4 linked regions of the Homo sapiens genome follow. The protein of the gene in region 1 purifies or fractionates together with the protein of each later gene. This does not show direct contact. Each region holds a gene or a part of one and is shown on either strand. Other genes may lie near its edges.

What was found. The genes of interacting proteins can lie anywhere in the genome.
Region 2: the proteins of DAB2IP (region 1) and ANKRD22 purify together in Homo sapiens (co-immunoprecipitation; one large-scale study listed by IntAct). This does not show direct contact.
Region 3: the proteins of DAB2IP (region 1) and ASXL2 purify together in Homo sapiens (affinity purification with mass spectrometry; one large-scale study listed by BioGRID and IntAct). This does not show direct contact.
Region 4: the proteins of DAB2IP (region 1) and SLC30A4 purify together in Homo sapiens (co-immunoprecipitation; one large-scale study listed by IntAct). This does not show direct contact.

What each region holds. Positions count from the first base shown.
Region 1 is NC_000009.12:121,658,134-121,661,633, forward strand, and holds part of DAB2IP (disabled homolog 2-interacting protein), read left to right. Parts: intron 1-3,500. UniProt on the Homo sapiens protein: Functions as a scaffold protein implicated in the regulation of a large spectrum of both general and specialized signaling pathways.
Region 2 is NC_000010.11:88,841,845-88,845,344, reverse strand, and holds part of ANKRD22 (ankyrin repeat domain-containing protein 22), read left to right. Parts: intron 1-3,500.
Region 3 is NC_000002.12:25,868,488-25,871,987, reverse strand, and holds part of ASXL2 (putative Polycomb group protein ASXL2), read left to right. Parts: intron 1-3,500.
Region 4 is NC_000015.10:45,481,931-45,484,755, forward strand, and holds part of SLC30A4 (probable proton-coupled zinc antiporter SLC30A4), read right to left. Parts: 3' UTR 1-2,825. UniProt on the Homo sapiens protein: Probable proton-coupled zinc ion antiporter mediating zinc import from cytoplasm potentially into the endocytic compartment. Controls zinc deposition in milk.

The DNA of each region.
Region 1 (3,500 bases):
CTTGACACAAACACGCTCACATCCCAGGCTGCATACGTGTTTTGCTTTAGAAATGACATGAAGCCTTTTGACTATTTTTAAGAGAAAGGCAATGGCTGTGATATTTCCCCTGCACCTCCCTCTCGGGGCCACTTGGTTAAATGTCAGGAAAGGGAGAGTATTTCCTGGTCAGGAACATTCAGAGCTTGCTGGGAGCTGAAGTTTTGTTTTCCATTAAGTAGGTATTCGGGGAGTCTATTTCCCTCTGCCTCCTCTGTTTCCCTGGAAGCTTGCGCTTGACAGTTGCAGGGAGGAGGGGTTTGAGAATGAGCAGCCGAGATGCCCACGTATCGCGTGCCCGCTCTAGGAGTGGCGGGGTGGCTATTTTTAGCCATCCCGATTCAGTAGAGGCATTTCAGCGTTTGTTCAATATTTAATTATCCATCTGAAATTGGCCCATGTGGCCTTCAGTTTGGAAGCAGCTCTCTGTGCTGTGATTTCCCAGTTGCATAAATAAGGAAGCAAGGGAATCTCAATAGCCCTCCAAATAATAATAACGAGAAAAAAAAGTAGACTCGATACTCAGCAAAGACAGGCTTGGTTCCTCGGTCTAGACAGACCACCTGTATGTTAGCAGAGAAGCACCACCGAGGACGCCCATCACGCCCTTGGAAATGCGGCGGTGCTCAGTCTCCGAATCTCAGATCCACAACTGCCTGGGTTTTATTGGGGATGGGTTTTCCTCCCTTCGCCAGGTTCCTGTGTTGACTTTGACAGCTGCTGGGTACCTGAGAGGTGGTTTGGGGATTTTGCTTTTGGAAGCCTTGTTAGCTTTTATTTCCCTCTTCTCTTCTCCCTGACAGACAGGAGAGTACTATCGGCATCTGGGCTGTGCTATTTCTTTTTCCTTGGCCTTTGGAGGCGATGTGCCGACATAGTTGTGAAATGAAAAAAGGCAGAGCACAGGGAGGGAGATGTTGGGGCCATGAGGCTCTGCCTTCCTTCCCCAAGCCCCTGGCTGATGAGGGAGAGAGGGGAGAAGAGGAGAGAGTGGGGCCCAAGGGTGCTGGGCAGTCGGAGATGACTCCTTCCTACTGTCCTGCTTGGCATGGAGATTTGTGGACTTTGGGTTCGGAGACTGGAAACCAATAAATTGGTAATCTGGAATAAGCTTGGTTTTTCTATCCATTTACACCTCTATTCTGGGGACACAGAGTTTGGCCTAGGAGCGTGTACAGAGTCCTGACTAGGTCATAAATGCTGTGTGACTGCAGACAAGTCACTGAACATCTCTGGGCTCAGAAGCACATGTAACAGATAGATATGATGCAGCATAGGGTGTCATTATAGGCCAGGAGAATTGTCATTATTAGCTGTTCACCCAAAGTCTGAGGGGTTGCTTGCAAATCAGTTAGGGCTGATCTAGAAAGAAAACGTTTGGGAGGCCGAGGTGGGCGGATCACGAGGTCAGGAGATCGAGACCATCCTGGCTAACACGGTGAAACCCCGTCTCTACTAAAAATACAAAAAAATTAGCCGGGCGTGGTGGCAGGCTCCTGTAGTCCCAGCTACTTGGGAGGCTGAGGCAGGAGAATGGCATGAACCCGGGAGGCTGAGCTTGCAGTGAGCCGAGATCGCGCCACTGCACTCCAGCCTGGGTGACAGAGCGAGATTCCGTCTCAAAAAAAGAAAAAAGAAAAGAAAAAGAAAGAAAACGTGATGCCAGTGGGGACTGGACCCACCTAGGTGGTTTCTCGGCATCCCTACCCTGAGAGGCTGCCACAGGTCTCACTGGTACTTGTTCAGAGCAGCAGAGCTTTAGCGAGCCACCTAGTATGTGTGACCTGGGTGCCAGGGGCTGCCACAGCAGATATAGCCAGCCCCCGCCCTCGGGAGCTCAGAGGCCAAGGGGAAGAGTCTTGGCATAAGGTTAGCAGATGGTGTGACTGGAAAGGTAGGCAGGGCCTTGAGTGGTGAGCAAAGAGGGGAGAACAGCCCCTGGCAGACCACTGGGAATCAAAGGAAGGATTTTGAAAATAACAGGAATGATAACAGTGATCTCCATGTCTTGAGCACTTACACAGCACCAGGGGTTCTTCTAAGTCCTTTACATGCATCCTGCCTTAAATCATCATTCTCCCAGGTGGTGTTATCAGCTCCACTTTCTAGATGAGAAAACTGAGGCTCAGACTGGTTAAGTGACTTGCTGAGCATCACCCAGCTACTGAGTGGCAGAGTCCAGGATGTTTAACCCTCACTATACTTACCAGAGCTGTGATTTAGGAAAAGAACTCTTAACAACCCTCAAGCTAGACTGGTATGGTGCAGGGAGAAGAAAGTGGGAAGAGGGAGCAGGGAGGCCAGTCCGCTTCCTGGGGAATTTTGAAGGAGGCCGGCAGGTGCAGGATGGGGGAAGGCAGAGGGCAGGTGGAGAGGAGCTGGGAAGTTTGGAAGGGCTGACACAGGAGAGAGGATGCCGCCATCTGAGGGCCAGTGCTGGGCTCCTGCCACGATCTCTCCCTGGCCTGCGGTGAAATGAGGACTGTAAGGGCATTGCAGCGAGTTTCCCATAACATCCATTTCACTTCAGTAACCCATTTTGATGCCTCTTTTTTATTCTGAGATGATGGTCTTTGGATTCTTTGGGGTTAGAACATTCCTTTTATGCAATACATAAATGTCTAGTATGCACCATACTAAATGGTGTTCTTTTTTTTAAACATCTATATTTGGCAAGAAAAGAAGTCAGTGGTTCTGTGTGGCCCACCCTCATATTATGCTACTTCATAGTTTTCATTTATAGACATTGAACTAGTTCCTGGAATTCTCACAGGATGGTAGGCTGACACCCACGAAGGAGAAGTCCAGGGGTCGTCCTTACAGCGAGAGGAGTGGGAGCTGGTGGTGGGATAAGGTGGTGGGATAAGGCCCTTGGAAAGGCGTGAAGAAGCGGGAGGATGAGGGTCATTGAGGGCTGGGGTGGGGGATGCCCGGCAGGCTGTGGACATGGCTGATGGGCCTGCCTTGGATGCTGATGCTGCAGGGGTTTTGGCACAAGACTGGGCAAGGGGCTTTTCAGGGAGCAGCTTCAGGAGAAGGCGAGAAAGGTGCTGGAGCCTGCAGGGGATCGATTATTTGGGGGAGAGGAGGTGTGGGGTGCAGAATAGGACAGGATTGGAGAAGTTTGGTGAAAATGGGGGTGCAAGAGAAGCTTGGATTTCCCATTAACTGTCAATACAGTCATGGTTCCACCTGGTATCTAGAAACCTGTTCACAATTGTAGGTTTAGCAGCACACAGGGTGGGGTAAGTGTCTCTCCCCATCAGGAGCAGCCTCTGAACTCTCCTGGGACCCTGAGCTTCAGGGAACCCAGGCTGTGGCCCCCCTCCCCCACTTTGGCAATGCTGTCTGCAGAGGGAAGGGCCGGTTTTACTAGCACAGGGAGTGCTCCGGCTCCTGTGTGTCGGGGAAATTCTGGAAGAGGCTCTCTTCCAGAAGTTATGGAAGGTCCCCGGGAGACA
Region 2 (3,500 bases), on another chromosome or scaffold:
GAATGTAGAGATAGCAAAGGATACCAGGTCATTGTAGGAAGGTATGGTCTTGCCAGAGAAGGAAGGCAATATTAAAGGACAACCTCCTTTGAGCACCCTTGGAGCTTGTAACACTCAAGAAACATACGCATTTAGTCAAACAGGAGATTTTCTGGGGTTGAGGGGGAAACACATTTTTCTTTATTCAACATTGAAAACTTAGGGAGTTTCAACTTTTGTATGTGAAGTGAGCTGATCAGCACCAAAAGTGGTGAGGAGAAGTGAGTTTCTCAAGTTTTGTAAGAGGACAGGACAAGACAAAAACAGCTTGTGCCCCAGAAGTTCTCCTTGTCTAAGAGCCCACAGCAGGAATGTATAATTGTTAAGAAGCCAGCTAAGAAGCCAGCTGTTGAGCTCAGAAAGACAGGTTCAAAGCTCATCTCCACTATTATCAAGGAGAAAGTGGGAGAGAAAAAAATCCCCGAATAAACTTGTTTTCTAAGGGGAAAAATAAGTCATTTTATTTGTATATGCCTTCTACAATATAAGCTTTTATTTCATATATGTGTGCATATCTATTGAAATAACAAATAATTTTCAGCTAGAAAAATTGTGGCTTTTTTTTAATCAACTAAGGAAATCCCACTTGTAATTTTAAAGGAAATCTAGATTATCTGAGATGAGATAAGAAGGCATAAAAGGGATCTTTTACTTTTAACCATAAAGATTCCTTAGATTCTAAACAATAATTACTTTAATTAAAAATCTGTAATGTTTACTTATGTTATAGAAACAGCTCTTGATACATAGCTCCCCTAATCTTAAAGTTATTAAGATTAGAAATACCTTTTTTGGAAAACTGAAAAAGAGATGAGAATGGGAGGCGTTTACTATTTGGAAACCCATAAAGTACTATTTAATACAACAAAATGGTTTACATACTAATTAACTGGGAAGTCTTAACACTAACTTTCTAAACTGAAGGTAGATTTTGTCAAAACTCTGCTAACATTTCCCATCAAACATAAAATAAAATTCAAAGTCCTAACCATGGTCTACGAGACCCAATTTTCCTTGGTCCCATTTGCTTCCCAAATTTCCCGCCACTCCCCTTGCTCATGCAGCCATGCTGACCTTCCTGCTATTCCTAGAACACATCAAATCGAGCTCTTGTCTCAAAGGGCTTGACAGTTGGATTCCCTTTGTCTGGAAGTTTCTTCCTCCTGAAAGTTACCTGGCTCATTCCTTCACTTAAGACAGATCATGGATCTCTGCTTGAATCTCACCTTCAAGAGATCTAAAAGAGTGGCTTTGTCATTCTTTATGTATTCTCTTACTGTGCTTTACTGAAGTATTATAATTTTTAAAAATGTCGGGTTTGTTAGATGAAAGTGGATTTGAGAGTCCTATGTGTTATGATTTTTATGATTCCCAGTTTGCAGGTTGCCGAAGAGAAAGGTATAATGATAGCTTCCCTGACCTAAATGTCGGTTTAATAAACATGTGTCTATCTTGTAGAAAATAATATAGTAGGTTATGTGAGAGTTACAAGAATGTAAGAATAAAACATTTGTTTTCTCCAAAGAATTTACTGCAGTCATAAGGCCAGACACAAATAATTCTCCCAATGAAATCCCTTGTGGGAAATTCTTGATGTTAGTTGATTTCTAATTTGCCACAACTCAACTTTCCTGCCTTTAATGGTCAAATTTATTTTAATTGGACTTTATAGTAATAACCAAAAACTTACTTGTTACACTGAAATAATACAACTAATCCTGGAACCCTAAAGTCCACACCCTTTTTTAGCTAATTGGTGCCACTAAAGTAAACAATTTTGAAAAATGAAAAAGATGCTAATTGCCTTGATGCACCATCAGACCACATGAATCTTCAGAATCAAGCAAGCATTTCTGCAAAGGCAACGTTTTCTCCCAACATGCTTAAGATTAGGCGTGATGAGGATTTGAAAGGGGATTTTAGCACTATGGTTTTGTGGCTTTACCAACAGTTGACCTTTGGCAGGTATCAAGATCATATTATGCTTAAAACAAGGTGGGATGAGGTCTTTCAGCAACCTCAGGACTTCCCGTTTCTATATATGTGAATGAGAATTTCTTCCGCCACAGAATATTCAAGACACAAGGAATTGGAGGTAAGAGTTGATTTTAGGAAAAGGAGGTGAAGTAGATGGCAGGCAAGAGAAGAAGCTTTTATAGAGAAGCCTTCCTTGAGAAAAGTAAATGAAGATGAGGTCAAGAAACAGTGGCTTCAGAGCTGCACGCTAATGGAAGTCAGCCCCTACCTGGGAAGTAGTGGTAATTTCTGGGACATAAAATCAGAAAGTCATCATACATTTGAATGAAGGACCAGAGAGGAAAAAAATAATTGTCTTCAGTATTAGTATGATCCAAAATGGAGTAAAAACTATTTGCAAATATATTATTGAAACTGCAAATCACAGTAGACCTATAAAATTTCCTGTAAGCAAGAATTGGCAAGTAACAATTCATAACACTATGTCTATTATTACCACATTACAATGTGTGAAATGTTACTGATATTTTTTTCCTGTCATTATTTTTCCAAGTATGTGAAACATTTATAGTTGTTTTTATAGGTTCACTTACATGCTAGTCCTCTAATCCAAATTCTTTAACTGAATTTAAGGGGATTTTAGTAATTTTGTTAACTCTGCAGATGCTTGGGAAGGTTTGTCGTATAACATGATACAGAATGTGATGAATGCTATTATGTACCTCTTGTGAGTATCTACTGGGTTTTCATCATCTCTGTATCCCTAGAGCCTAGCACAGTTCTCTTGGAAAGTATTGAGATCTCAAAGTCTGTTGAATTGAATTGAAGAAAATAATCAAGGACTATAGGCACTCCTGGAACTTTTGTGGGTAGAGTTTATTATAAATTAGTGCATGGAGTTGCATAGGAGTGGAGAGAGGCTTAATGGGTTAAAACACTGGTTCTGGAGTTAGATAGACCAGAGTATAAATTCTAGTTATGCTACTCACTAGCTATAAAGAGCTCTGAGCCTGTTTTCTCATCTGTAAAGAGGGATAATATTATTTTTGTTCTAAGATTGCTGTAAGGGTTAAATGAGATGCTGCTAAGGTGCTTAGCATTACAGATGGTATATAAAAAGAGTTCAGTATATAGTAGGTATTATTACTGTGAAACTTTTTACTGTTATTTTTTATTTTTCCCAAAGGAGACTTACATTTAGAGATTTAGTGCTAAAATACCTGTTTAGGTCCATTAAATGTTTAGAGACATTGGCTGCTGAGAGTTCAAATCCTGGGCCCTTCCCCAGCCAAACTGTCTTCTACGTTAAGAATAAGACAGTGTAGAAAAGTCTTGGGATGTCAAAAGGTAAAATGAGGCACGGTTAAGCTCAAAAGAATTTATTTGAGCAAATACCGATTCAGGAATTGGACAGCTGTGGTTTGCAGGCTTTTTGGAGGGAATGCAAGGAGAAGGCTTTTATAGGGTGAAAAAGGGAGTAAAGC
Region 3 (3,500 bases), on another chromosome or scaffold:
CTCCTTTTCACCCAAGAGTTTAATAAAAAGTTCTTTAATTTTTAAAAAAATTGAGGAACTGCTCTGATGCATAATTTTCAAAACAACTGTGTATTTACATTCGTCAAATTACTTTCTGCAAGTCTGTTAGTACAAGGTGACTTGATGTAACACTTTTTGCTTGACTGATCTTTCCTTCTTGCCATATTATTTAAAGTTCTCCTGCATAAATTTTGTGTTAATTTCAAATTAGCCAGGTGTGGGTGGCGCATGCCTGTAATCTCAGCTACTCAGGAGGCTGAGGCAGGAGAATCACTTGAACCCGGGAGGCGGAGGTTGCGGTGAGCCGAGATCGTGCCATTGCACTCCAGCCTGGGCAACAAGAGTGAAACTCTGTCTCAAAAACCAAAATAAATAAAATTTTGTGTTAATTTCATAATTTTTTCTGACCTGTTTTTATTCCTCTATCCTGAAAGCCCACAAGCCTCCTAGTTTGTTGAAGGAGGGGAAAAAAGCAGATTTTTTTTTGAACACTTAAATTAAAAATTTCTATGAAAGGTGCTGCTGCTGCTGCTACTCCTGCATCTCTTGTAGAATTCTGAAAGGCGTTGAGAAAATAACCTCAGGTTTGCAAAAGTCCTTTCTGCTTCCCCATCCACAGATTCTATCTACTCTTGAGAGGCTGGACAATTTTGCTGTGGGACATTTTTCCCCCCCTCTACGAAAGCTGTCTGGAAGGAGGCCAGTGTGGAAGATATAACTAAACTTGCTATCTTTGTCCTGTTTACAAAAGAACTCTGAATACCCCTCTATTTCTGTATTCTTTCTTTTTACATCTCATAGAGGCCATCCTCATAGTTGATATTTTTAAATTTAGTATTTTTAGTACAGTGTGATTTGTTATGTTTTTACTATTGTTAAAAGGTTATTGAATGAGCTAAATTTTAGAACTCTAAATATGATTTAAAAACTGTTACTTGCTTTAAATTTATTTCCTATTCAAGTTATATAGGCTCATTATGTTTTAAAAAAACAAGAAACAAGTAGAAGTATGTAAAGAGTTAATCCTAGATGAGTCAGTATACTGAAAACAGGAATTAAGTGAAAGTCTGCATACTGAAATATTGAAAATATTTACTTACCATACCGAAATTAACTCTGGTTGATAGTTAAATATGGCTTTCTGGATTTTTTTTTACCTCGTATATACAAACAGGTATACCTTTATTTTACATGAAATTCTATAACTTTATTTTATGAATATCATGGATAGCTTGTCGTGTCATTACTTGTGTATTTAATATCTGCCTTATTCTTTTCTTCTTTTTCTTTTTTGAGGTGGGGTCTTGCTCTGTCACTCAGGCTGGAGTGCAGTGGCATTCAATCACGGCTTACTGAAGCCTTGACCTCCTGGGCTCAAACAATCCTCCTGCCTCAGCTTCCTGAGTAGCCAGGACAACAGGGATGTGCCACCAGGCCAGGTTAATTTTTTGTTTTTAAACGGAGCCTGGCGACAGACTGCAGTGGCGCAATCTTGGCTCACTGCAACCTCCGCCTCCTGGGTTCAAGTGATTCTCCTGCCTCAGTCCTCCCGAGTAGCTGGGACTACAGGCACGCACCACCATGCCCAGCTAATTTTTGTATTTTTAGTAGAGATGGGGTTTCACCATGTTGGCCAGGATGGTCTCAATCTCTTGACCTCTTGATCCATCCACCTTGGCCTCCCAAAGTGCTGGGATTACAGGTGTGAGCCACTGCGCCGGCCACCAGGTTATTAATAAAAATTTTTATTTTTTGTACAGATGGGGGCTGACTATGTTCCCCACCCAGGCTGTATTACATCTTCTGAAGATGCATCTGAGTTGTTAGCTTCCATGGTGAACTGTGGCTTGAGTGGAGATTCTGTAATAAAGACCTTCTATAAGTTAACGAATGCTTCTTTCATCATAAAGACTATGTAGTGCACTACAGCATCAAACTCCTGGGCTTAAGCTATCGTCCACCTCAGCCTCCCAAGTGGCTGGGACCACAGACATGCATCACCACGCCAGGCTAATGCCTTATTCTTTTCAATGTTTCTTTCTTTTTTTTTTTTTAGTATTTCATTGTTACTGGATATACCATCATTAAAAAAAATCGGTCCCTGATTATTTAACATACAGGTAATTTATAATTTTTTTCACTTTTTTTTTTGAAACAGGGTCTTGCTCTGTCGCCCAGGCTGGAGTGCAGTGGCGTAATCTTGGCTCACTGCAGCCTCCAGCTCCCAGGTTCAAGCGATTCTCCTGCCTCAGCCTCCCGAGTAGCTGCACTACAGGCGCACGCCACCATGCCTTGCTAATTTTTGTAATTTTAGTAGAGATGGGTGAATATTGGTCAGGCTGGTCTCGAACTCCTGACCTAAGGTGATCCAACCACCTCGACCTCCCAAAGTTCTGGGATTACAGGCATGAGCCACTGCACCCGGCTGTGAAATACTTTTTTTATTGTGGACAAGAAGAAGGAAATTCTGTCTATGCCAGTAAGACTTTGTGCTCCTTTAAGACAGACTTTCTTTTAAAGTGTTTTTACTTGCAGACCTTAACTGAGTTTCTTACATAGGAATGCTAAATCTTTTTTTTTTTGTACCTTTTTAAAATTGGAGATTAAAGAGAACATTCTTTTTCTTTTCTTTTTTTGGAGACAACGTTTTACTCTGTTGCCCAGGCTGGAGTACAGTGGTGGATCTCAGCTGACTGCAGCCTTGACCTCCCAGGCTCAGGTGATCCTCCCACCCCAGCCTCTGGAGAAGCTTGGGACTACAGGCACATGCCACCATGCCTGGCTAATTTTTTTTTTTTTTTGAGATGAGGTCTCGTTCTTGTCCCCCAGGCTGGAGTGCAATGGCGTGATCTCGGCTTACTGCAACCTCCACCTCCAAGGTTCAAGCGATTCTCCTGCCTCAGCCTCCCGAGTAGCTGGGATTACAGGCGTCTGCCACCATGCCTGGCTAATTTTTGTATTTTTAGTAGAGGTGGGGTTTCACCATGTTGGCCAGGCTGGTCTTGAACTCCTGACCTGAGGTGATCCACCCACCTCAGCTTCCCAAGGTGCTGGGATTACAGACGTGAGCCACTGCACCTGGCCAATGTTTTGTATTTTTTATAGAGATGCGGTTTCAGCATGTTGCTCATGCTGGTCTTGAATTCCTGGGCTCAAGCAGTCCTCTCCTATTGGCCTCCTAAAATGCCGGGATTACAGGTGTGAGCCATTGCTGCCAGCCTGTTCTTACTTTTAAGAGAGGATGATTTGCATAAAGCTAGTCAAATATATTAAGTATTGTTTGCCATGAAAACTGGTTGAGTATCTCTTTCTTTGTGAAAGAAAATTATGCTAAGACACACCAAGATATTTGCCTCCAAAGATTCTTTTGAGTTACATTTGGACCTTGGGAAATATCTGTGATAATTCTTAAGTCTGACCTTGCTTGACAGAACTAAAATTGGTTAACGGTAAATGCGAATGTAGTTAGTTCATCTTGG
Region 4 (2,825 bases), on another chromosome or scaffold:
TTTTCATGGCTGGGTGCGGTAGCTCACACCCTGTAATCTCAGCACTTTGGGAGCCCGAGGTGGAAGGATTTCTTGAGCCCAGGAGCTCAAGACCAGCCTGGGCAACATAGGGAGACCCCATCTCATTAAAAAAAAAAAAAAAAAAAAAAAAAAAAGATTTACAAAGGTTTGCAGTGTTTCTGTATTTTACAAAAGGATTCTTTTTGGCTGGGCACAGTGGTTCATGCCCATAAGCCCAGCACTTTGGGAGGCCGAGGTGGGCAGATCACTTGAGCTCAGGAGTTCAAGACCAGCCTGGGCAACATGGTGAAACACTGTGTCTACCAAAAATACAAAAAATTAGCTGGGTGTGGTGGTGCATGCCTGTGGTACCAGCTACTTGGGAGGCTGAGATGGGAGGACCACTTGAGCCTGGGAGGCAGAGGCTGCAGTGAGCCCAACTGTGCCACTGCACTCCAGCCTGGGTGACAGTGAGACACCATCTTAAAAAAAAAAAAAGAATTCTTTTCAATACTCAAATGAATTTTAGCCTGTTTTATCAAATACATTTTTTAAGGAACAGGTCGATACAAAAGCGAGATATGCCTTTATAAGATAAAGAAAAGTTTACAAGAAACAAGCTCAATAGATATAAAAAAATGATTAGAGTATGATGAATATTTTTTTCCTTTCTACTTGCTAGATACTCAAAGTCCATAAATATGTCCAGATGTCCACTGAAATATCTCTCATTTATTCTTACTTGGTTTCTATATGTAAGAATATTTTGATTTAAATAGTTTATATGCTCCTGAAATTTCTGAGAAATTCAAGTCATTATTTTAAATGACTTCACAATAGGAATCCCATCATGTATATTTTCTTTTCCTTTTTGTTTTTGAGATAGGGTCTCATTTTGTTACTCAGGCTGCAGTGCAATGGTGTGGACATGGCTCACTGCAGCCTCAACCTCCTGGGCTAAAGCACTTCTGCCACAGCCTTACAAGTAGCTGATACTACAGGTGTGCACGACGCCTGGCTGATTTTTATATTTTTGTAGAGACAGGGTCTCTACAAAAGACCAGGCTGGTCATGAACTCTTGGCCTCGAGGGATACTTCCACCTTTGCCTCCCCAAATGCTGAGATTACAGGCATGAGCCACTGTGTCTGGCCACATAAATTTTCAGTTCAATTCAACAAACATCTACTGGGTTTCATTAGAGGGACCATCAATCCTTTTATTGACACCATTAACTCCCAACAATCTTATAGGTAAATCTGGGTTTTCTTATCTTAGGTTTACTTATAGTAAGGTACTTGGTAAGAAGATAAAATGTTTCCTATTCTTCATTTATATTGTAAGTCATCTGCATGCTTATCTAGAATTTCAACTTACAATTTGCCTGGTACATTGTTACCCTACTCTGATTCTTAGAGGAGCCCAATAACCATATCCATTCTTCGTGTAAGAAACTGTCACTGTTGAAAAGGGACTCCAAATGTGCATAAAAGATAATCTCAAAACCAATGGTTGCAAAATGAAACATGAACAGTCAAGCTGCCTCTTTAACACAGGCATTTACAATTAGGTTGCCTTCAGTTTGGAAACCTCTGTTTAGTTTCCCTGCAACACAGATTTAATGTCCATCCCTATCTAGTGCTTTAAAACACACACATACAGGCCAGGCATGGTGGCTCATGCTGTAATCCCAGCACTCTGGAAGGCCAAGGCAGGCGGATCACCTGAGGTCAGGAGTTCAAGACCAGACAGGCCAATGTGGCAAAACCCTGTCTCTACTAAAAATACAAAAAAATGAGCTGGGTGTGGTGTACCTGTAGTCCCAGCTAGTTGGGAGGCTGAGGCAGAAGAATCACTTGAACCCAGGAGGCAGAGGTTACAGTGAGCAGAGGTCACGCCACTGCACTCCAGCCTGGGTGACAGAGTGAGACTCTCTCAAGAACAAAAACAAAAACAAAACCACACACATATATAAGGTCAAAAATCCTTTACATTTCTGTTTTCTCAAAGTAATATCTTCCCCCAACCCCTTGGACATTTCTGCTATGGTATTATTGGAAAACCTCAAAATTGTATTTTAGGGTTTCTGGAGTCCATGGAGAATCCCTAACCCATATCATAAAACATAAAATATATAATAAAACATAACCCATATCATAAAACATAAAATTCTCTCTGGATTAATGTTGTTGAACTATATGTGAAAGGTGGGAATTATAAACTGAACCCTCTAGAGTTTACCCTGAAAGGCTAAACACACAGATGACCTGGAGTGGAGGCAGGAACCAACGTACCACATTTTTTGTACAAATTGTTGGCAGTTCTTAAAGGGACAGAAGATTACTGTTTACATTTTGCAGTCTCTTGCTTTTTTAAGACAATTTCATGAATGATAAAAGTGATGTCGGGAAGACATAAACCTGAAACTCCAACCCCCATCCTCGCTCTTTTATTTTGTTTTAAATCATCATATAGTAATTTGAGTTTAAGACTAACTTCAGCCATTCAGAATAATATTGAAAGTATTTCCTAAATCATTTAATAACAGTGACCACAATAAATAAAGATTTGGTTCTAAGATTACAAATAATGAAAAATGTTAACTTTGAGATTCAAAACCCTGTAGCATCTGGAAAAGGTTGTTTATAAAGTATAATCATAACAATAACATTAAGACTTATGTGTGAAATAAAACATTTCTGAAACACTTAGGAATACATGCTTATTCCACTTTTGGGATAACTACTAGTACTTCCTGAAATCTGTTGGGTAGTAATTTCTGTAAAAAGAAAGCAGCAATTCCAGAAGCTGGGTGTCGAGATTATT